Linked DNA regions of Homo sapiens. The protein of the gene in region 2 interacts with the protein of the main gene of each other region in a biochemical or structural test. Each region holds a gene or a part of one and is shown on either strand. Other genes may lie near its edges. The genes, in order: PDCD4 and IBTK.

Region 1 (12,899 bases), on a different chromosome or scaffold from region 2:
TGTAAATGATTTTTAAAATGATACACCTGTATAGAGCACTCAATATGAATAGAGCTTTCAGGATGGAAGTTACTCTGGGTGATTCAATGAGTGAGTGGTTAGTGAATGTAAAGGCCTAAGACATTACCCATACACTGGCTATGCACTTTATAAACACTGTATACTTAGGCTACATTAAATTTATGAAAAAATAAAGTAACTGTGCTACAACATTACAACTGCCTCCATATCACTCAACGATAGGAATTTTTCAGCTCCGTTATAACCTTATGGGACCACCACCATCCCACACAGTCCATCACTGACCAAAACATCATAATGTGGCACGTGACTGTACTTGTTATTCAAATTATATTACTTACTTTTAACATTTGTTACATAACTTTAGAAGTATTAAAAATATCCCCCATCAAATTCCATGCACTTCTGAGAATGATAAATTACAAATACATTTATACATTTCTAAAAGTCTTCTTTGATCCAACCCTTCCATGTAAGCAAATATCCAAATAATGTCAACCTCAAACTCATATACTGGCAGTTTTATTTCCATTTTTATCTTGTCAATTTTCTTTATTGAGAGAGAATTCACACACCATAAAACAGCTTGTCCAGTTTCCAAAAATATTAATTTTGGAGAGTATTACCATCTTAACAATATTAAGTATCCTCATCCATAACCATGGGATATCATTCTATTTATTTAGGTCTTCCTTAATTTCTTTCAACCTGTTTTGCAGTTTTCAGTGTACAAGACTTGCATTTGTCTTGTTAAATTTATTCCTAAGTATTTTATTTTTGATGCTATCACAAATGCAATAATTGCATTTCAGATCATTCATTTCTACTGTATAGAGAATTGAATTTTGTGTACTGATCTTTTATCTTGCAACCTTTCTGAACTCATTTTTTAGTTAATAGTTTGGTTTCAGTTTTGGGGAGTTAAAAAATGTGGATTCATTCAAATTTTCTGTATACAGATCATGTTATCTGGGAATACAACTAGTTTTATCTCCTCCTTTCCAATCTGGATGCCTTTTATCTTTCCTGCCTAATTGCCCTGGCATCTTGACTATTTTTATACCTCAATTTTTCTAATAATTGTTTAATTTTTAAAAAACAGATACTGCAATCACGACATTACAAACACTGACTCATCTATTTTAACATATATAAAAGCAAAAACAGTCAAGGCTCTAACTACAATTTGAACTCCTTAACACTTAAGCTAGATACACATACACAAACACACACACACACCTCATTAAAAGACTTACTAAAAATCAAAATTGTAGTTACATGAAAAGATTATACTCAAAAATCAGAAGCACATGAACTACAAATCTTCTAGTTGCATGCCTTTTCTTAAAGAGATCTGCAGATAAGGAGTTTTTTCTGTTTTTTGGTTTCTTGTTATAGGACACCACATTGCAGCCAGAAAAAAAAAAAATCCATAGGGAATAAATCTGGCATTTTAATGCAATAAATCGCTTTTTTTTTTTTTTTTTTTTGAGACAGAGTCTTGCTCTGTCACCCATGCTGGAGTGCAGTGGTGTGATCTCAGCTCACTGCAACCTCCTCCTCCTGGGTTCAAGCAATACTGGTGCCTCAGCCTCCCGAGTAGCTGGGATTACAGGTGCGCACCACCATGCCTGGCTAATTATTATGTATTTTTAGTAGAAACGGGGTTTCACCATGTTGACCAGGCTGGTCTCAAACTCCTGGCCTCAAGCAATCCACCCGCCTCAGCCTCTCAAAGTGCTGGGATTACAATCAATTTTCTTTTAAAACATGCATATGGGTAGTGAATGTCCTCACAAAAATCTAACACTCTGATCTGCTCTAGTGCTCATAATTCATAACTCATTATTTAAGACTATCTAGTTTTAAATTGCTCATATAAAAGCGTATTTATTGAATAGCTAAAACACAGAAAATCTCATTTCAACAGCATTTGAAAATTATTAAATAATACTATAAGAAAAAGATTTCAGGCATTCCTTTGAAGTTCATAGATGGCTTGCTTATAATTATTCATGAAAGCCATTTTAACAGACTCATTTTTTAATCATATAATTTATAATAAAAGGTTATAAAGCCACATATTAAAAAAATTATTTCATTTTCCAATTGCAGCTGTAAGACCGAACTTAATTTTTGTCCATAAAAATACCAGCTAGTAGCCACAATTTATTTCACTCAGAGGAATACATATAAATTAAGTTAAAAACAATACCCAATCATTACCTCTTTAACAAGGTGATTGACAGATTGCTGCCCACCTCCAGAGCCCCACACACTATCTTTACGCTTTCCACCTTTAGACATACTCAGAAGCACGGTAGCCTTATCCAGAGCAGCTCTACAGAGAAAGAAAAAAATTTAAGTTTGATAGCTGGACATACCTAAAGTTTACTAAATTAGGGATAAAGCTGACAAAATCCTATATGCCCTAAATCTTTCACATAACATAAAAGCAAAATAAAATTCAAAACACTTTTTCAAAACAAAAAGGAGCAAAAAGAAGTTGATCCTCATGTTAATATTCTCATGCTCTATTTCATTTCTCATTCAAGAAAAATCAAAACACATTACAAAATAACTGATCTACACTGAGAAGAAACACTTCACATATAATTAACTTTCACCTAGATCCATGCCTTCCTACCCAGGGACACCATTCCACTATGATGTGAAGTAGCCCTAGAAAATTAAGTTAATATATAGACCTGAGGAAAACTAAGACATGGCTGAGTCCAAGTCTCCAAGAAGTTAAGAAAAATCAAATAGCATAACTCCCAAATATCACATTTAGTTATACCAAATATCATATTAATTATACTAAATCACAAGAGTGAAAAAGATACTTTCTGACTAAGATTTCTACAGTAGATAAATACAAAATAAAACTATAAATCAGGCCTCTCTTCTTAAGGTTATCCATCTTATTAGAATATTAAACTATTACACAATGCTAGAACCTGAAAACAGAACTTAAAGATCTGTCCAATGGTTTTGTTTCATAAATAAAGAAACTGAGGCCCAAAGAAGAGTGGCTTGACATGAAGGTAATTAATGATTTAGCTAAACTCCAGAACTTTTCCATTATAGTACTGTCCTCTTCCTGGTATATCATGCCAATAGTCTCTCCATTTTAACAGTGGAGAATATAGAGAAGTGACAAACAGATGTACAGAGTGTCTGATTAACACAAGTGTCATTTCAATAGGATCCTGTAGAATTTTCCCCTATTTTGAAATTCTAAGTAGGAAAAGTGATTTACTTACCTAGCCTGCACACAATCTACAGTTCCTTTGTAACTATCAATATAGGTATTACATAAAATTCCATCTCCAACAGCTCTAGCAATAAACTGGCCCACCAACTGTAAAAAGGAAAAAAAAAAGAGCTATAAAAAAAGTTAAATAACTTTTATAGGTCACAATTTCTAAATACATAAATGATGAAGATTAGCTGAAGTACACAGTCAGTACCTAAAAGATGCTGGAATTTTTTTTTAAAAAAAAACCTATGTAGTACCTGTTATGCCTGGCATACACTCCCACATCTTAACCTTCAAGTTAAGTGCCAGAGTGGGGGCCACATCTGTTTTGCTCACTAATGAATCCCTAACACCTTGCACACTGCCTGAATACATAGCATATGATCAAATTTTTTTTTTTTTTTTTTTTTTTTGAGACAGAGTCTCGCTCTGTCGCCCAGGCTGGAGTGCAGTGGCACGATCTCAGTTCACTGCAACCTCCACCTCCCAGGTTCAAGTGATTCTTCTCCCTCAGCCTCCCGAGTGGCTGGGACTACAGGCGCACACCTGGCTAATTTTTGTATTTCTAGTAGAGACGGGGTGTCACCATCTTGGCCAGGCTGGTCTCGAACTCCTGACCTCGTGATCCGCCTGCCTCGGCCTCCCAAAGTGCTGGGGTTAAACGAATGATTTAAGGTCAAGTGACGTCCTCTCTTCTTAAAACAAAACAAAAAAAAAGGACTAGGTTCTCTCAAAAACTAATCAAAGGAATTTATCTTGTGGAGAAAAAAAGTTGTATAGAAATAGTTGAAAGTATGTTCACAGCATTACTTATTATAAAAACTGGAAATTGGTGTCCAAAAATAAAGGTATGGTTAAATGGTATACACATAAAATGGTATACTATGTGGCCACAGGGAAAGATATTTACCATATTTTATGGTATGAGAAAAATCAAGTTTATAAAATAGCATAATGGTATGATTCCATTTTTTTAATTTTAAAAAATTAAGGATTTATAGAAGCCATACATTGATATATACCCACAGAAAGGAGAATGGAAAACTTAACACCAGTAGCAGTTTTTGCTGGCCTTTCTTCTTTCTGGCTTTTATTTTTCAAAAATTCTACAATAAATATAAACTTATGTAATCATTTTCTTAAAGTATGTGTATTGGTATAAAAGGAAAAAATGTCTGCATTAGAATCACCACTTAATATCTCATACCGAGTATTGTCTGTCATTAAGTTTAACAGAAACAGCATTTAGGAACTGACATGCCTATATTCTATTTCTAAATTAATGTTTTAAGTAAAGTGATTTTACCTTGATTAAAAACTTTTGACAATAGCAACAATTTCACATTTTCAAAGCTACAAAAGGGAAGAGTCTTATTTATGACTTCTTATAATAAACATTAGTGAAGCATTCAATCATAACCTACATTTTTTAAAAATCTTAGCTAATAAAACAACTACATATAACAAAGACTATATATATGGCAAAAAAAAAAAAATTACCTAAAAACTATGCAGATCATAGGGGAAAAGTACAAGATAACATTAAATTTATAGCATGATGAAGACCATGTTTAAAAAACAAAAGAACTAGGAAAAAATACATCAAAATGCTAGCGGAATATTTCGGTGTCGTAGGAAATGTTGGCCATCCCCTTCCATCTACTAAAATTTCCTAGGAGTATACATTATTTCCACAATTAGGAATATAGTAGTGGGAGGGAATGAACAAAAAGAAGAATCATACAAACCTGTGGTGCTCTAGGAGTATCCAGTGCTAATTCAGGTAGATCTTTCAACAATTTATCAAATGATTTTTCCACATCAGTTGTGCTCATTACTGTCCCACAAAGGTCAGAAAGAAGCTTAGATGTCATCTCTCTATGACTAGCCTTCCCCTCCAATGCTAAGGATACTGCCAACACTGGTACTCCACTTTTCATTTCACCAAGATTTAAATCTCTTAACATTTCCTGTTCAAAAAAATAATTTAAAAACATTTTAAAAGTGTATCACTACCTATAGTTCAATAAAATTTTATTTTTGAAAAATTGAGCTTTTATCTATATATCTCTACGTCTCACTCTTTGGAAATAATCAAAAGACCCAGTCATGTTTTAGAAGATAGGATAAACACACCTTTCCCTGTGCATAAATCAGACATTGATCCACTTTGTCAAGCTTTAACTGCCTTAACATCGCTAAATTCAAAAATGTGAAATACCTTTAAAATACTGTCATGGGTCACGACACAGATACATTCTGAGAAATTCACCATTTAGGTGATTTCATCAGTGTGCAATCATTATAGAGTGTACTTACACAAACCTAAATGGCAGAGCCTACATGTAGGCTACATGGTATAACCTATTGCTCCCGGGCTACAAACCTGTATAGTATGTTACTATACTGAATACTGTAGACAACTGTTAACACAGTGGTTACCTATCTAAACACAGAAAAGATACAGTAAAAAGAGTATTATATGAGACCAAAGGTATATATGCAGTCTGTCATGGAAACGTCATTATGCAGCTCATGGCTAGTTCATTAAACTACATAATATTGCTGAGATTGGTATTAGGAGTTAACTAACCTGCCTTACAATCTATTATTACTATAAATATTGTTTTATGAGAATTTGTGGAAAAATTCATTTTAGATTATCATAAGCTATTTATATTCTACTTTTCTTCAAAGACTTCTCTTGAAATAAAAATTCACTTCACACTTTTGTATCAAGTTTAAAATGAGATCTTAAACAACTGTTTTTAAATGGGATTATTGGTTTAAGATTCTGGGGTAAATTTAAAATTTCCTTTTAGAAATATAATAGCTGCAGCTAATACTTATTGACTAATGTATCAGGCATTATAATAGCCTCTTTAGTTATATTATCTTATTTAATACTCAAATAGCCCTTTGAGTATTAAATTATCACACCTATCATACTCAAAGGAGAGAGGGCACACAGCTGGAGTAGCCAAACTGAAAGTGGAATAAAGGCAGTCTGACTCTAGAAGCTAAGTTCTAATTCAGTTAGAGTGCCCTCCTCTTTAATGAAAGTTTTCTTAGAATCTTTAAATCATGATATACTACTAAGAGAGTGCCAAAACTATTTTCACAGCCACGTAACTGGTGTCCTTGTTAGTAATCTCTTCTCACTGACTGCATTTCATCTTCCTTGACCGCACTTTAACAACTAATCCACTACCCTCAAACACAATACTCCTCTTTCCTGGAAAACTATCTTAACTGGCGAACTCCTCAACATCCTTCAGACAGCAGAGAATCATCTCTACTATTACTCTCTATTTTATGCTTTCCAAACAGTACTCAGTTAACAGATACATAGTATACAATTGATCTTATGCTAGGTAGATTAACAAGATTTCAACAGTCCCTGCCCTCATAGGACTCATGGAAACTTTTCCTCTATAACAGAACGTTTCACGTATTTTAATAATCTGTTTACATATCATTTCTTTCACTTGACTGGGCTTCAAAAGGGCAAGAATCACCTATTACAAATTCCTCCAGATGGTATGCACTGAACAAATATTTGTCTTATATTCAAATCCTACAAATCCAAAGATATCAAACCTCACAGTATCAGACAAATCATAAAAGTCCAGTCTAAATTTTAAGAATCTAAATGATCAAAGTCTTCTAAAGAGTTACAATTGTATTACTTTAATTTGATAATCCTAACTAGACCAATGGTTTTATTTTATCCTAGATTTACTTTATGAACAAATCATGATTATTCTCATGGCTTCTGTATATTCTTTTTCAAATCTTTATTATTTGTGGGGTTTTTTTTGGACAAAGTACAAAAAGATTTTATCCTACTTCTGAACATACGTGAAATAAATGTCAAAAAAATGAAACTATGTCAGGCATTCTTAACTGAGATCCCTGAAGAGGTTTCGGGGGGCGTCTAGAAGTGCCCTCAAACTGCTAAAATTATATTTTATAAATTATAAAAACAGATTTTATAAATTCATATACATTACAAATTATAATTATAAAAATTATAAAAATATTGTGTCATTTTTCAGAGAACAAAATGGCACACAGCTCTCATCACATCCCAAATATATAACTGTTTTAATGTAATGAGATTTTATTCCATTTCTTAGAAATTCACTTATGCAAAAGAAAATGATTAAATTTATTCAGTGACCCAAGATCATTGTAGATGTATTTTGCTTATAAAAGATGTCTTCTCTCCTATATTAAATAAATTATACTTGCAACTTTAAACCTACCGCAACTTCATTAGTATCTCCATGCTCAAAATATTCCTGTATGATTGGTGTTAAAGTCTTCTCAAATGCCCTTTCATCCAAAGGCAAAACTACAGTTTCATAAACACAGTTCTCCTTTGAGGGGAAAAGGGAGTAAGAGTTATAAAAAACAAAATGCAAATAAACAAGTGAAATTGTTGTACAATTTTATATTCTAAGTGGTTAATAATCCCCACTTAGCACAAGACAAAGACATGCTACATACATTGATCGCATATAAAAATAGAATCTAGGCCAGGCAAGGAGACTCATACCTATAATCCCAACACTTTGGGAGGCAAAGGCGGGAGGTTCACTTGAGGCCTGGAGTTCAATACTAGCCTGGGAAACATAGCAAGACCCTGTCTCTACAAAAAAGTTTTAAAAATTAGCCAGACATGGTAGCTTGCCCCTGTAGTCCTAGCTACTCAGGAAGCTGAGGCAGAAGGATCTCTTAAGCCCAAGAGTTCGAGGCTGCAGTGAGCTATAATTCATCACTGCACTCCAGCCTGGACAACAAAGCTAAAAAATAATAATAATAAATCATAATAAAAATAGTAGAATTTATATGTCACTGCTCTTTTACAAAATCAGAATACAATAAGCCAATATATAGATTAGAATCATTAACCACAGCAAATACATAATTTGCTCCCAACCCCCATGTCTTCTGTTAATTTTTTCTCTCAAAATTTTTATGTCTCTCTCAAAACCAATCTTTTAGTAATCAAAAAGTTTCATGATGGCTTCCTATCATAAATGGTGTTTTAATTAAAATTTCACTTTAAAAAAAAATGAAGCAGGAACCAAAGCCTTCACGATTAGCATTATTATAATAAAAAGTATAACACAAAGATCAATGTTGTAGTGACAGAAAAAAAATCTCTAAGGAAAAAAGCACTGTTCAATTGAAATTTCAAAAAGAAAATTAACATCCATCATCAAACCATTCCTCTCTCCCCATGCTAAAAAAGCTCTGAAATGTAGTGCCCCCTTATCTACAAGGGGTATGTTCCAAGCCCCGTCCGAGGATGCCTTAAACCACAGATAGTACCGAACCCAATAAATACTGTTTTCTCAATCCGATAACCTAGACAGCTACCATGTGACGAATGCACGAGTAGTGTATACATTGCGGATACACGCTGGACAACGGAATGGCTCACATCCTGGGCAGGATGAGGTGGATGAAGCTGGACAGCAGGAGATCTCATCACACTACTCAGAATGGCATGCAATTTAAAACTTATGAATTACTTCTGAAAGTTTCCACTCAATATTTTCAAACCACATTGGACCATGGGTAACTGAAACTGCGGAAAGTGAAACCACGGATAAGAGGGGACTGCTATATTTACAACTTGTGACTGGCTTCAGCCTAAAAACATATACTTGAAAGATTAATACATTTTTAGCAAAGATTCTACAGTACTTGAATCCTACTAGTTTCATATTTTTCATGTTCTCTTAGAAATATTTCCATATCTATTAGTTAAAACACTTAAATACATACATACAACACACAATAAAAACAACCTAACACATACTCTTAACGTTTTCCTGTCTAAAATTTCCATCACCGTGTCTCACCTTGTGCAAAGACAAATTTTCAAAAAACATAATCAAAACATTTGGGATTTGCTTCAAAATAATCCAAAACAGGGTGGGGCAAAGGGGCCAATAGAAGACGGAGAGTAAATGGAATTAAACAAGACTGCCTATGAGTTTGTAATTATTTAAGTTTGTAAAGCTAAGAGAGGAGTACAAGCAGATTATACTATTCTACTTTAAATTTTTTCCATTAAAAAAAATAAAAAATTCACTTCACAATCTATTAAAAATTTACATTTTCAGCATTATCCCTAAAAGAAAGATGCGCATGTCCCCAAAACAAAATGTATTATATAGTTACCATTCTAAACAGTAATATTTAAAAGGAATCTAATATCTGTAACTCATAATATTCAAAAGAAGATATTCTCAATTATCATTACTATAGAAACAAACTATATTAACAGAATTTACTGAAAAATGGACAACTTAATAATCCTAAGTGAATTTCTAAAGAGCTATTTTTGACTCACTACAGAAACCAAGTGAAAGTTATGCATGTATTACTGTCAGTTTACTTGGTTTCCTAATCCAAAACATTTATACATATGATTTGACACATGTATGAGTAAACTACAAACATGAAGTCAAAAAAGTTCATAAACATTTTAAATATTATGAAAAAGCAAAGCACTGATACCTGGTCATCATCATAGTTAGGATCTTTCACATCCACCTCCTCCACATCATACACCTGTCCAGGTGTACCCCAGACACCTTTGCCTCCTGCACCACCTGAAAAAGTTTAGCATTGAGAAAGAAAAAACACAAAATTCATCAATTTGTTGAAATCTAAAATAAAATGTTCCGATGTTAAACAACAGCTAAAAAAAAATTGTATTTAACGTGTTAGTTTTTTTCCAGTTTTCTTCCCCTACTGGTTTTTGTTCAGACCACTCTTTCAATATTTCCAAAAACATTAAGTTAAAATAGCTTATGAAGTTAAAAACTAAAAAAGCAGATGCTTTAAAATAAAAGCAAAAACAAATAAAGATAAAAAAATAGCTATATTGAGGACCTCAAAGGAGATGATATTGCAGCTGAGCTCTAAATTTTATTCGACATTTCTTTGAGACTAAGACAAAAAGAAACATTCTGGGCCGGTAAAGCTTAGCATAGAAAACTCAACAAGGGAAAAATTATTTAACAAAAAAGGACAGTAACCACCATCAAATATTTTAAGGTCAAATACAGTACTCTTTAAATATTAAAGTACACATTAAACCATACAACTAGCAATATGTTATAAATATAGAAAAGAATTCTAACTGCTTTTAAGCATTAACAGCCCTGAAAATTCTGTTTTCTAAATACAAAACAACCAAAAGAAGCTTAACAATTCCAATTTTCAAAGTTGCTTTTCTACATCAACTTACTGAAATGTTTTAAGGACTAATGTACTACACTATTTTTTAAAGAACCTTTACAATGTCACCAACATTTCTGTTTTTGGAGGTTTTTATTTTGTACCAAGTATATCCTTGCCATCAGACCAAAACAGAATCTGACAACCAGGTTTCATTTTGATATAAAACATGATTGCAGAGGCATTTAACAAAACTAATTTTTGACAGATCACAAAAACATTTTACAAGAAACCTAGGCTATAAATTGAAGTTCCCACCATTCAGAAGGTGATGAAATCGTCAGAAAACTCTTATTCAACAAATATTTGCCTACAGTGTACTAGTCACTATTTCGGGTACTAGAGAAACAGCAGTGAAACAGACCAATCTACTACAGAACCCAAAATAAAGAGCTAAAGAGAACTCACCGTGAGATCTAGGAAAACATTAAAATTCAGATCTAGACGTTATCAATCAAATGTATATTTATTAGTAGTAGTAATGGACATAATTATATTAAATAAGTATGATGGATTTCTGACTCCTTTCAAACTTAGAGAATATACGTAAAACTCGTAACAGTGAAAAACATCAGTGTATATTTTGCTGGAAATAAATCGTTAACATTCTGCTCAAGAAAATTAAATCTACTCAAACAAGAAAAAACATCAACCTAAAGAAAAAGTGAGATGGTTCTCACATTATTACTAAGTAAAAATATATACAAACTGTAAAGCCTTACATTTTCACTTTTTGAATCTCTCTCATTCCTAGAACAAGGAAAGTGTAGTACAAGAACCAGACAATTTTTTTCCACTTGTTTATCTTCCATTTGTTGGACATGATATATACCAACCTTTCTTTGGTAGTCCCCTTCCTTTCCCAGATCTGGATCGCCTATCCAGCAACCTTCCCTTTGGACTGGTTGGCACAGTTAATCCACTTCTAAGGGCGTCACTCCCACTGTCGCTGACCGAATCGCCTCTGCCAGAGTCCCGGGATGAGTTTTTCCTTAGTCGCCTTTTTGCCTTGGCATTAATTCTAGCTTCGTTAATGGAGGATGCTGAAATCCAATTTCCATTTATTTCATTCTTTATTTCCTCAGTCCCAGCATTTTCTTCATCACCGGAAAAGAGAGAGTCACTTAAGTTATCAGGATCTTAAAGAGAAAAATGAAGAAAAAAATTCTAAGTATTTTAAGTATCTACTGTTTTATAGATATAGTGGTAAGTTAGATTAGGTTGAATCACATGACATTACCATTTTTGTAGGTAAATTACAGTCACATATTGGGAATTTCATCTACTTCAATCTAATAAACAACTAAATAAGATTACTTTTCACATTATCAAGGAAAGTAAACCAAGGCACTGAATTTTAACAAAGCATGTTTGTTTCTTACCAAAAACAAACCAAATTTGTTTGTTTTTACCAAAAGAAGCATGTTATTTCACGTTTAGATCATAAAATCTATGCTAACAGCAACACCAAATATAAAACCCTTAGACTTTTATGAGCTAATTGGAGATATTAAGAAAAGACAAAGCATCTTGAGAAGAGAGATAAACTAATATTTATAGAATGCCTACTATTAGGCACTGTGCTAGACACTCTATCATTTATTTATGCACAAGTTTGGCAGTTAATTATTATAACATTGAAGACAGATAAGGAAACTAAGGCTGAGAATGTTTAAATGATTTGCCAAACGTCCCATAACTAGGTATAAACACTTAAGAACTATTAGTAATCCAAAAGAGAATGAAAGGCATTTAGCAAATAATCGCATATGATTGTTGAGCTGAACTGCTGATGCTTTACTGCCTCAAGACAAAGTTTGCTTTCAAGAAAAGCCAACATCTCAAAGTCCTAATTCATCTCCCTAAACTTTTCTCCTATTACTTACCATCCTGTAAATCTTCCAGCCTATATAAAATTGATTCTTCTGAAAGAGATCAACATACTGGAGTTCCCAGTAGAATGTCGCCCTCACTGTTATTTTCAGTTATCAAAATCCTTTAGGATATAGCCCAAGTCTTACTCCCTGCATTAAAACTTCCCTTACAACTCTAGGTACAGGAACACTAATTGCTCACATACTATTCATTCAACACGTCATGGAAATCACTTTCTTTTTATATAGCAGTCTTTTTCTTCCAACTAAGTCATAAGCTTCAAAGGAGAAACCACAACTAGACTGTATGTCCTTCTTTGTATCCCCATCACCTAGCAGAGTGTCCTTCATACTCAAATTCCATGGAGATCAAGTGGAGGCACTTGGCTTTGCCCTGAAAGCTCTTTAAGTCAGAAAGGCTACTGAATTAGCTACCACTGGGCCACAGTTTTGTTCATTATTGTTAACGCAAATCAGAG
Region 2 (12,899 bases):
AAAAAAAGTGAAGCAATAGAAAGATTCTTAACTAAATTAGGCAGAAAAACTCACCAAAGTTCTAATTAAATTCTTACCTTTAGGTTAAATGAAGCTTGAAAATTACATTCTTTCCTTTCTATTTTTAACAAACAAAACTCATTCTACTGTTTAATATTAACAAAAACAAACATTTAATAGAAAAACTTGGGGATACTAAATAATATTGGAGACCCACCAGAGGAAGTTATACCATAATGACAAAATTCTACAATCATTAGAAATAGATGATTTCTGGCCAGGTGTGGTGGCTCAAGCCTGTAATCCCAGTACTTTGGGAGGCCGAGGCGGGTGGATCACCTGAGGTCAGGAGTTCGAGACCAGCCTGGCCTATGTGGTGGAATCCCGTCACTACTAAAAATATAAACATTAGTCAGGGGTGGTGGCAGGCGCCTGTAATCCCAGCTACTAGGGAGGCTGAGGCAGGAGAACCGCTTGAACCTGGGAGGCAGAGGTTGCAGTGAGCTGAGATCATACCACTGCACTACAGCCTGGGCAATGAGGGCGAAACTCTGTCTCAAAAAAAAAAAAAAAAGAAATAGATGATTTTCGACCTAAATGAAATCTACACTACAGATAAAAATAAGTCAGTCAGGCACAGTGGCTCACACCTGAAATCCCAGCACTTTGGGAGGCCGAGGTGGGCGGATCACAAGATCAGGAATTCAAGACCAGTCTGGCCAACATGGTGAACCCTCATCTCTACTAAAAATACAAAAATTGGCTGAGCATGGTGGCACGCGCCTGTAGTCCCAGCTACTCGGGAGGTTGAGGCAGGAGAATCGTTTGAACCCAGGAGGCAGAGGTTGCGGTGAGCCGAGATCGTGCCACCGCACTCCAGCCTGGGCAACAGAGCAAGACTGTCTCAAAAAAAAAAAAAAAAGTCATATTACTTCATATTAAAGGGAACCTGTTTCCTGTACTTTTTTTCTTTCATCAAAAACAAATTCTACTTATTATTTACACTAGGCAATACTACAAAATGAATGTAGAAATGTTTGTGTATATGTCAATATTGAGAATGTTTATTGCCTATTGCTATGCATTTTGTCAATGAGCATAGTACTGAAATAGCCTAATCTATCTTGTAGACCAGGGTATTTTTAAAACATGTTTAACAAAATATCCTAACATTAGCAATCAGAAGATGTTTCCAGATGTTCCCACATATTAAATATTTACCAATTTGTGTACTTATGCAAAAAAAAAAATTGAAACTAATTTCTGAACTAAAGTTTAAACCATGAAGCACATAAAATGGAACATCATAATCTTTGTTCCAACTCTGCAAAATATAGCCTATTTCAAAAGAATTAAACAGTCCAGATGATAATATGTCAATTAACAGTTTTAGACTTTATCAACCATTGTAGGCATATAAACATGAAGCACAAGCTTAATTAACATTTTGAAAGAATACTACATTCTAATTACATCTGCTACTCATTTAACTTTTCTTTTTCTTTTTTTTGAGATGGAGTCTTGCTCTGTTGCCCAGGCTGGAGTGCAGTGGCGCGATCTGGGCTCACTGTAACCTCCGCCTCCCGGGTTCAAACGATTCTCCCACCTCAGCCTCCCAAGTAGCTCGGATTACAAGTGCGTACCACCACGCCTGGCTAATTTTTTGTATTTTAGTAGAGATGGGGTTTCACCATGTTGCCCAGGCTAGTGTCGAACTCCTGAGCTCAGGTAATCCACCCACCTCAGCCTCCCAAAGTGCTAGGATTACAGGCATGAGCCACCATGCCCAGCCTTCATTTGACTTTTCTAAATAAATGAAAAAATATATATATAATATAGGCAAGTTAAAAGGATAGTATAACATTAAATTAATATCCTCTGAAAATTAACTGAATAGTTACACATTTTGTGAAATTTTAAATACCCCTTCACATGCTCTAAGAGATAAAGTCTATGATTGACAAAATTGTCTTCCTGTGCAGCATTTTTAACCAATACATATTATCTAAGAAATAACTACTGATACTAAGTTTCTCTCTATATACGTAAAACATAGTATTTGCTACTATTCACTGATGATAATACAAAGGCAACTAAATTTTGCCTGGGGTTGGTTGGGGGGGAAGCCTATTATAGCTGGTTAGCAATTTGTAGGTATTTAGGCAATTTTCTGTGCATTAGAAATTTATATTAATATTTCTTAAATGTTCATCATTAAAAAATTAAATTGCATTAAAAATGAATGACATTTCTCAAACTAACAGTTATAGAATAAAATAAAAATCCTACCTGAAAGAACCAGCAACCCAACTGGCAGAGCTGGTAGTATCAATTCTGTTACTGGGAATAGGCTGTGGAGCAGATATTTTAAGTATTGGTGACTTTTCCCATGGTTTTAAATCTTCCCTAGAATACACAGGAGATGTACCATTAACATACGGTTTGACTTTCGCCTGGGGAGAGAAAAAAAATAAAAAAAGTTAACAGGCACCTAGAACAGTAACTAACACATAGCTGGTACTTAATAAATATTAGTTACATTATAATGAAGAATAAAATCTTATGACAATAAGCCATCTAGTATTTTCAAATCATGTTCTTCTACAGTTTTGTGCCTTAGCCAACTCTCAAATCACATTATTGACTATAACTGAATTATTATGAGCTTTGAAAATAATTTTTAGGGAAACTAGTTTGCATATTAAATCTCTACACAAATAGTTAACATGTAATATATAAAAGTTGTACAAATAAGACATGAAGCAGTAATTTTAAAATTAATATCCATGGCTTGAATATGAAACAAAATGAAAGTTTTGTATAAATGTCATATAATTCACTCTGATGTAAAGTACTGTGAATAAAATTAAAGTCAAATAATACTGACACCTTGAAAGGAACCCTAAAACTACTGCTATTGTAATATGTCAAGGAAGTTATTAAAATGATATGTCTATTTCCAGGATAGATTCTTCTGTTATTGTAAATCACTCACAATATACCCTGAGCCTTCCTTTAAACCTCAATTGTCTTACAGACCAACCTTAGTGTGAATATAAATTGCCCCCAAACTTCTATCCTATATTTTAAAAAAAATCAATCCTGGCGGGGTGTGGTTGCTCACATCTGTAATGCCAGGACTCTAGGAGGCTGAAGTGGGTGGATTGCTTGAGTCCAGGAGTTCGAGACCAGCCTGAGCAACACGGCAAAACCCCATCTCTACTAAAAATATAAAAAAATTAGCTGGACGTGATGGTGCGTGCTTATAATCCCAGTTACTCTGCCGGCTTAGGTGGGAGAATCACCTAAGCCCGGGAAATCAAAGCTGCAGTGAGCTGATACTATACCACTGCACTCCAGCCTAGGCAACCAGAGTGAGAGACCCTGTCTCAAAAAAAAAAATCAAATCAATCCTTGAGGCCTAAAAGACTCTAAGAAGAAAGGGTAAACTTCTGTTGTCTTATGAATTCCTAGAAGTTCCGATACGTTTTGTGGATGTGTAGGAGTTACAGAAAAGTGACTCTATCTCTATTCAGTTACACATTTTTCTCTAATAGGTTAACAGCTATGGAATCAAATGTTAAGGAGTGTCTAAGAAATGCCCTCCCCAGAGCTGATTAGGCTAGGAATCCTGCAGCTTAATGTGCTAGATTAGGAGAAGAACTCAAATCATTTCCAAATTGTTTTGCTCCAGTTAATACCCTGGAGGAAAGAGACTGCGAACTTTCAAAGTAGGCTTATTTTCGAAATCATTTGCCTTGACAATTTTTAACTGATGTTAACTGACATTTCACAAGATAAATTTCAATAATTTAGCTACAAATATATTTTTTCAACATGTCTATAGTGTTATTATATTTTACATCAACATTATATTTTAGTTGCACAAAGACTAGAAATAACATCATAAAGGGCTCAAAACTGCCATTACAATCTCTAAAAATAGAAATGTTGTGCAAATTTAAGAAAACTAACACTATATTTGTGATTCTTATATACCAACCTGGAAACTGTTTTAAAATTAGGGCAAAAATAAGGAAATATTAAAGATAAACCATCTATAAATCTAAAATCTGAAGGTAAGGAGGTAGTGCTTCAAAAAACAAACCTCAATCTTATCTGAATGAAATCCTGTTGTGAAATCAGGGGACTGTAAATCTCTAGGACTACCCACTCCTGCATAGCTTCCTTCAGAGTCTGATGTCAACAGTTCTGGAAGAGATTCCACAGAATTGGTCTTACCAGACTTTAATAATCCTAAAACATGAAATTAAAAAAAATTAAACACATATGCATTAAACATATATGCATTACATTCCATGAACCAGAGAGCTAAAAAAGCTTTCATTTATCCAGATTTAATAACATTCAAATTATATTTATGGTATAAAAATCTTAATAATTCAAGTTAACTGGAGAAAGAAATCAGTTTAAGTGAAAAACTGAAATGGAAGAGATTCTAAAACAATAATTTTATTCATTACAATCACACACCAATTGTGTAATGAACCTGAGGAAGATAGTTCTTTGGGATCTGCTCTAAAAAGTGATTTAAAATATTTTTGTCCGCATAAGAGACAAAGGAGAAAGGGAAAATAATTAAAATCCAGACCTCTTTTCCCTTTCTCATCTGTCTCTTGGTACAGTGGTCTCCGCACCCAAGCAAGGGGGTAGCTTCATTCTATGTGGGAGGAACCCTGTGGCCTTTTTGCCTCTCACTTAGCCAGCTGACTGACCCCATAGCAGAGGCTCCCGCAGAAGACAACTGTGGCCTGTTTGAAGTGTGTTTTTCCCTGAAATCTCTGGCTATTGAGAGCTCGCTTGAAGCAAGAGGGTTGTTGTGAAATGTATATATCATTTCTTCTCTTAGGCAAGCTAAATGCCTGGCCTCATGCCACACCTGGTATCCAGGTTCAAACTTTTGCTTAGATTCACATGTCCATTTCCACACATTTCAAATTTATTAGAATCTAAATGAAGTACCAAAATAAGCTATAAAATAAAGATGTTATCTAACTTGTAACTAAAAGCTGTATAATTGATTTAAAAATAAAACCTACCATCTCTTATACATTGTTCTCTTTAAAGTAAATCACCTTAACAAGCTAAATGTTTCTTTTATTGTTATCACTACAATTTGGAAAGAACATTTAAACATTTTTTTTGCCACACAATCTTTTTGAATTTTTTTTTTTTTTTGAGACAGAGTCTTACTCTATTGCCCAGGCTGGAGTGCGGTGGCATGATCTCAGCTCACTGCAACCTCCACCTCCAGGTTCAAGTGTTTCTCCTGCCTCAGCCTTCCAAGTAGCTAGGATTACAGGCATGCACCACCATGCCCGGCTAATTTTTTTTGTATTTTTACTAGAGACAGCGTTTCACCATATTGGCCAGGCTGGTCTGGAGCTCCTGATTTTGTGGTCCGCCCGCCTTGGCCTCCCAAAGTGCTGGGATTACAGGCAGGAGCCACTGCGTCTTGCCTCTTTTTGAATATTTTTAAGGCTGGCAAATTTTCATCGAAGAGAATACATCTAATATTAGAACACTCTCAAAAGTCAGTTAGAAATAAATCCAGAAAAAAAGAGGACAATTAATGTGGCCAACAATTACTTCTGGTCAAAAACAGTTTTGCTGAATGCCGTTTGTCTAACTTTAAGATCGACACAGATGTTAAGCTTTTACGCAACTGTCTTTGATGAAATTGGCCTCATACTCAAATTTTCTTCCTTAACAGGTCTTTTTGGCCTCCAATTAAATCTGACCTTTTAGTTATCTTTGACTACAGATATCCTGGCCACAGAAAGAACAGTACACCAGGAAAATACGGACCTGGAATCAAGAGAACAAATTTTATTTCTTTTGGTCACTACTTCAAATCACTTATGTTTTTTGAGCTTCTTTCCTTAGGTTTAAAGTAAGGGACATAAATTATTTCATTACTAATGTCTCTTCTAGCTCTGAAATTCTAAGATTCTAACACATATGGTAACAATAACATTATTTAAAACAAACCAAATATCTGCTTTTCCATAAGTCATTTAGGTGACTGGAAAGTCATTACTTTCAAGACTGTCTATCCATTATTCATCCTTCCATCAATCCACCCCTGCCTCCTTCTAAACACTAACGGTAATTCATACAACACAGAGAACACAGAGTCACAGAATTTTAAATTTAGAAAAGTCCTAAGATAATAGCTTTCCCATTTACTAGGTCTCCTGATTCCTATTTTCATTGCTTCATAAATAAATTTTAGGCATATTATCTATCCTTTTTTTATCTTTATGTTATCTAAAACTATTCTTGACATTATTCCTTTGAGCTTTAGTGAACATATCAAGCACCTAATTTGAAGCATCTCAGTAAACATAAAAAAAAAATCCTTCTTCTTTGCCCTGCCTAACAAGCTTTTTTTTCCAAAGGGACACAAAACAATGTACTCTTCTATTTTTCAAAGTTGTTTGTATACAGCTGATTGACTATGAAGTACTGTTAGCAGAAACTGTACTAGGTTATGCCTTAGTGCTATAGACAAGAGTAACCTACCATTTCTGAAAGCCATACTGTAGTCTCATTATTTTATAGTCACAATTCATGTTTTATCTAAAGAAACTACTAAAACGTATATAGTTTAATCTAGATCAGATGAATCTAGAATGTGAGACAGTCTATAACACAATTGGACTGACCTTTTGGAAAAGAGAAAACAAAAAACAAAAAAGTACAGCAGTTTTATACTAGTTAGAAGAGACTAAAGAGATACTAATAAGCAAAGATAATATGAACCTTGATAGAATACTAGTTTTTTTGTTAATGTTAAAAAAAAAAGACTATAAAAACATTTGTCAACAATTAGGAAAATGTGGATATGAAGTATAATACTAATTAACACTAATTAATGTCAATTGTCTCAGGTATGATAATGGTATTGTGGTTGTGTAGAAGAGTATTCCCATCTTAAAAGATTCATATTCAAGTATTCGGGGGAAAAGTATCATGTCTACAACTTATTCCAAGTGGAACAATTTTTTTTTAAGTCTCTGTATTGTGTGTGTGTGTGTTTGTGTGTGTGTGTAACACATGGAGGAAAGAGGAGACAGTAAGCAACAAAGAGTCTGCAAGAAAATGCAAATGTGATGAGAAGTTAACAATAAATCTGAATAAAATGTACATAGGTGTTCATGGTATTTTTCTTTCATCTTTTCAGTAAGTTAAATATTCTCAAAAGAAAAAACTGGGGAAAAATATTTTAGAAAAACTACATAACCTGACCTTTACTTTCAAACAGGCTCACATAATGCCTAAATACATTTTATATTCTACTACCAGATTACAACCCCCTTATGCATATGAATGGCATCTTACTTGGAGTACTGACATATTTAAATTGAATCAACATGATAATAGTTATCTCTGTCATGTTTTGCCAACCTCTAAACCCCTATGCCACTGGAAAGAGTAGTCTTTCTAAAAACAAATCTCATCCAGTCACATCCTGTTTTAAATCATCAACAGCCACCCATAGCCTTTAGAATAAAACACAAATTCCTTAGTTTGGCATATAAGAGCCTCCAAAATCTGACCCTATCCAACCTATCTCCTATACTGAACTATATGCACAAGAAATGTGCAACTCTTTCTCTTGCTACTAAGCTTGGGAACACATTGCCCCCTTTGCTTAATATACCTATCTGCCTCCTTTTCTTAGATAACTTCATTCTTCAAGACTCAGCTCAGCATTGCTTTCCTCTAAGAGGACTTCCCTGATCTCAGATTAGTTTGAGTACCTCTTTTGTGCTCCCAGAGCAAACTTCAACTGGAGTACTTACAATAAACTATCACTTTTGGTACCTCCATAAGGACTGTTTATTTCAGTAGCCCCAGCAGATGACATATGTGAATAGAGACATAGAAGATTAGAACTGGAAATACATGCTCACTTTCCACGAACCTGTAGATGATGGACTCTGAATAATATCTGAAAGGTTATAACCTCCAGAACTATCTGAACGTTTACGTGGCTTCTTTTTAGCTTTTGTTTTTGCTTTCTTGAACATAGTTTCCCTAGGAAAAAGCAAACATAATTTCAGCAGTGTTTAGGGAGGTAACTAAGATAAATGCACTTATTTAACCCAACATGTTTAACCTGAAGGCTACTTTTTAAAATATTTACACTTTCAATGTGTTAGACCTACAGATATTAATTATGTATTTACTTTGTATTATACCAAGGTTAAGAATGAGCGTAACTACCTATTTCTTATGTCAGAATTTCTCAATTTCATCTTCCAATACCAACACAAAAGTGTCATATGTCCAAGATGAGAGTGAAGGGACACACTGGAGAAAAGAAGGAAGAAAAGGAGGAAAAGAAAAAAAAAAAAGAAAACAGCTTACGAATGATTTTGTTCCATATTTATTTCTTCTTTCAAGAAGATATCTCCATCTTCTACTTCCAAATAGCTAATATCTGGTCCATCTTGATATGGTGTAATGACTCTTCTATCCATTGCTGGAATCTGCAGAATTGAAGATATCACTTTTCAAATACAAAATCTGTGAAGTTTTTTTTTTTTTTTTTTTTTTTTTTTTGTGCACACGTGGCTCTTGCCATGTTGGCCAGGCTGTTTGGAACACCTGGCCCCAAGCAAACCTCCCATCTTGGCCTCCCAAAATGCTAGGATTACAGGCATAAGCCACCACACCCAGCCTAAAGATGTTTTTTAAATTATGTAAGATATTCCATTTTTAATATGTGGTGACATTAACTAGAACAGCCTTGAATACTCAATAACTTCCTAAATTTACAAGAGGGGGTTAAATTTTGATTCAATTCAATAAAAACTTTATTCCATAAACCTGCCAAAAAGGAAACTTGAGAAAAAGCTCCACTTTATTATTAAAGATAGATTTATTCATTTCTTAGGGATCATATGAATTCATGTTTTTGCACGGTCCTGACCTCTGGTAAATAACAAAAGACTTACTCTGAGGCTTTCAGTAACTTTCATTTATAAAGAAATTAATAAATATTAACTTTATTATTAAGTATCTTGAATTCTGATTATCATATGTATCTGTGAGATCTGTAAAGGAATCCTATATCATCAGTTTTAAAAGATCCTAATGTACTAGAAGTCATTAGGAAACTATTCCATTAATAAGTCTGATCTAATATACTGCTTAAGCTGGTAATATTATAGCCGCGAAAATCTTAAAACATAAACCTTACCATTTTCCGGTAAAACTCAGAAAGATCCTTCAAAACACCATCGCTTAAAACATCAAGAGACCTAAAATATAGGATACAAAATTCTATCTTAAGATTCAAGTGACTTGATAACTGTCAAGTTGCTTACATACGTAGATATTTCATATTGCTAGATAAGTAACAAAGTTATTTTTTAAGCATTATATATAGCAGTTGCTACAAATTCCTTTTGGAAATAGATGTGGTTGTATATTACATATTTCAAATAAACAGCAAAGCAAACATATTACACAAATATCTTGAATAAAACTCAAGCAACTCTTTTTTTTTTTCTTTTTTTGAGATGGAGTCTCACTCTGTCACCCAGGCTGGAGTGCAGTGGTGCAATCTCAGCTCACTGCAACTGCTGCCTCCTGGGTTCAAGTGATTCTCCTGCTTCACACCCTCCCAAGTGGCTGAGACTACCAGGCACACACAATCACGCTCGGCTAATTTTTGTATTTTTATTAGAGATAGGGTTTCACCATCTTGGCCAGGCCGGTCTTGAACTCCTGACCTCAGGCGATCCACCTGCCTCAGCCTCCCAAAGTGCTGGGATTACAAGCATAAGCCACCACACCCGGCCTCAAGCAACTATTATAAATAAATGTACAAAGAATCTTCTCTACTTCATAAGAGTTTCATAAAAATTAACTAAATGAATCTATGTAATGCTTTTAGAACACCGTCTAGCACATAGTTAATAGTCATTACTACTGAAGTAAAATATAAAAATAAACTAAACAATGAAGCTTTAAAATAAAAACTGACACCAGGAACTCTAATCTCAAATTTCTGTGTTCTCATATTGTCACCAATGACTTTATAGGAAGTAAAATATTTTGACCTTATATTTTTAAAAAAGTATACATTTATTTCATTTTAAAAAGATCACTGTTAAAAACATTCAAAAGTTTTCAAGAGCTCTCTAATTCTAAAATGTACATAACTTCTAAATCATCAGCATTGATCAAATTCTTTCCATCCAGGTAAACATCATTATTCACATTTAAATCACTAATAATATCTGCTATTATATATAAATATCTCCTTTTGCAACAATCTTACAACATATGCACCTCACCTACCTTGCTTCAAGTAAAGCTGCCATATTCAATCCTATAAACTGTAAACAAGACAGTTTCAACTGTTTTGCACTATACATTGCTGCAAATTCCAGTAGCATAGCAGCATTCTTCAGGGTAACTACAAAGAAAGAAAAGATTTGCAAAATTAGATAAAAGGCACATTACCACAGCAAAATAAAATACATTTATGTCTAAAGCTGTACGATTTGAACATTTGGAATAAAGAAAAAAAAGTTTCTTGCCAAAAATAAGTTAATACTGGGGCAAATATGTAACTCTTCCATCCCAATATGCCAAAGTAATTTCAAAAGATTGGCTATGAGGAAAAATAAGCTCACACACAAGCATATTCTAAGCAAAACAGAATACAGAAGGGGCATAGTGCCACCCAAAAGCAAACACATAAGAACTGACAATCTTCCACCTAACATTTTCTGAATATTTTTAAAAAGCTTTTATTAATGAACAACTTTCCTTTCCATTTACATAGCAGTTATTCCCTCTTCCATAAAACTAAAAAAGATATAAAACTAAGAAAAACTGATGAAATAATTCTATAAAATATATTGAGTTATCTATCAGAATTCATGTGGGTGTATATATATACATGTAAGTATATAAATATATACATATTTTGAAAATACGTACATCACAATCTTATCATAATATTCTTCACACCAGTGAAAAATCTGATATACTGTGCAAAAGATTCTGGATTTAGTTACAATTGTAGTAACATTATATATAAAGTACCCATTTTCCTAGAGACTCTCCCAGAATATTCTACCTACATAACAGGTAACTTTCAGCTTCCTGTTCCCTCCACTATTTTTCTTAATTACTCTATCAGTACCAGCCAATAGGGAAACACAGTTGTTTTCTACATCTGGCTTCTTGCATTTCTTTTTCTTTCTCACCTGTGATTCTATCAAAAGTTGCAACTGCAGTCAATAATGGTCTCTGTCTCACTCCTGACTAATCTACATTTTCAACTAATGATGAACAGAGAAATTGAAGAAATGATAAAATTAGATCATATAAAAACTTCTTTAGAGTTGTTCACATGGGAACAAGTATCCACATATTCCTAATAATCAGAGACCAAAGGAGGTGGTAGCCTCCTTTTCCTAGGTTCTAGGAACATCAAGGAATTAATAAAGGCAACTGTGCAGCCAGAGCCATGAAAGAACACTGAGGAAGAAGACCAGCAAAGGCAACTGTACAAGTGTAAAATATCACTTATATGTATGTCTTATACCTGTTGTATGCTGTGTCCTTTATTTTAGAATATTTTTCTTTTCTTGCTTAAAAGGAGATCAGGGCTGTTGTTCTCTATTTAATAACCAAGGAGTAGACAGTCTACAGTGCTCAAGAAAAGTGAGAACTAAAATGCCAAAGCCAAGACAAACTCCTAGCAAGTATGAACTAGAAAAAATGGACAGGAATTCCCTTCACACTTCTTGAAGTAGCAGTAAAGCAGAACAGATATAAGATTAGAAAGTCAAAAAGGCTGTCAGGTGGAAGCTAAGGAAAGTTAACCTTTATTCTAGAGTAAGCAATTATAAATATGTAAACAGGGGGAAGATGTAACTACTTCCTACAGAAAGCTTAAAGAAACAGAAGTAGACAGGAGAAAGAGCATTTAAAACACTACTGTGACACTACCCAGAAGGAACAGATAACAGTGACCTCAACTGCATAGTAACAGTGAGAACCCAAAGGTAGGGGAAATGTGACCAACATAGTTAAAAGGAATAAGTTTTGACAACTGAATGAATTTGAGTGTCAGGGCCAAAATAATAAAGAAAAACTCATTTTGGATTTCAAAGTACAGTGTTCAGGAGGATAGCCATGAAATTAACTAAGATAATGAAGAGAGCAAGAAAGAAGAGTTCAAGAAAAAAAGAGATGTGCTTTGTTCAGATATATAATGGGAAAGTTAAATTTTTAAAATCACTGCAAATAGTAGAAAATGGGTAGCTAAAAACACCTAAAGCCAAGATCAGGGCAAGAGTACAAAAATTTCACTTTTAAACTCTCACCCTTGAAATTAGCAAATAAATCTGACACCATCTTTATTCTTCAAGGTTTTATGACATTTCAATACAAATATTACATTTCAATTCTAAGTCATATATATTTTCACATATTTCTAAAATAAGAATTCACTTACAAATGATGGCATGTAATAATTTACATATTTTGGCAGGTTTTCGTGGTACCAAAAAAATGGTCTATTTTACCATAAGTGGAATCATAAAGTCAATAAAGTACAGTAATCCTTGATGAACCTGAAAACATATTAATATTCAAACTCAAAATTACTCACGTTTTTCAGTTAATGCTACTTCACAAATCTCTTTCAACCGGGTTATGAGAAGTTGATCAGCCACCACAAGAACACTACAAATAAAATCTACATTTTGAGATTCTAAAAAAAGAAAGAAAACAAGCATCACTTTTTCTTTGTATACATTATACCTAGAAAAAAAAATTTGAAGTAATTAGTACACTAGAAAAGAGATTTAAGTAAAAAAAAAATTTGAAGTAATTAGTACACT

Evidence for each region.
Region 1: the proteins of IBTK (region 2) and PDCD4 form a complex in vitro, tested with the Homo sapiens proteins (one study listed by BioGRID).

The regions. Positions count from the first base shown.
Region 1 is NC_000010.11:110,880,019-110,892,917, reverse strand, and holds part of PDCD4 (programmed cell death protein 4), read right to left. Parts: intron 11,686-12,899; coding exon 11,383-11,685; intron 9,916-11,382; coding exon 9,821-9,915; intron 7,666-9,820; coding exon 7,552-7,665; intron 5,254-7,551; coding exon 5,032-5,253; intron 3,386-5,031; coding exon 3,288-3,385; intron 2,363-3,287; coding exon 2,248-2,362; intron 1-2,247. UniProt on the Homo sapiens protein: Inhibits translation initiation and cap-dependent translation. May excert its function by hindering the interaction between EIF4A1 and EIF4G. Inhibits the helicase activity of EIF4A. Modulates the activation of JUN kinase.
Region 2 is NC_000006.12:82,192,190-82,205,088, forward strand, and holds part of IBTK (inhibitor of Bruton tyrosine kinase), read right to left. Parts: intron 12,770-12,899; coding exon 12,668-12,769; intron 10,457-12,667; coding exon 10,339-10,456; intron 9,294-10,338; coding exon 9,233-9,293; intron 8,520-9,232; coding exon 8,398-8,519; intron 8,065-8,397; coding exon 7,952-8,064; intron 4,258-7,951; coding exon 4,109-4,257; intron 2,454-4,108; coding exon 2,290-2,453; intron 1-2,289. UniProt on the Homo sapiens protein: Acts as an inhibitor of BTK tyrosine kinase activity, thereby playing a role in B-cell development. Down-regulates BTK kinase activity, leading to interference with BTK-mediated calcium mobilization and NF-kappa-B-driven transcription.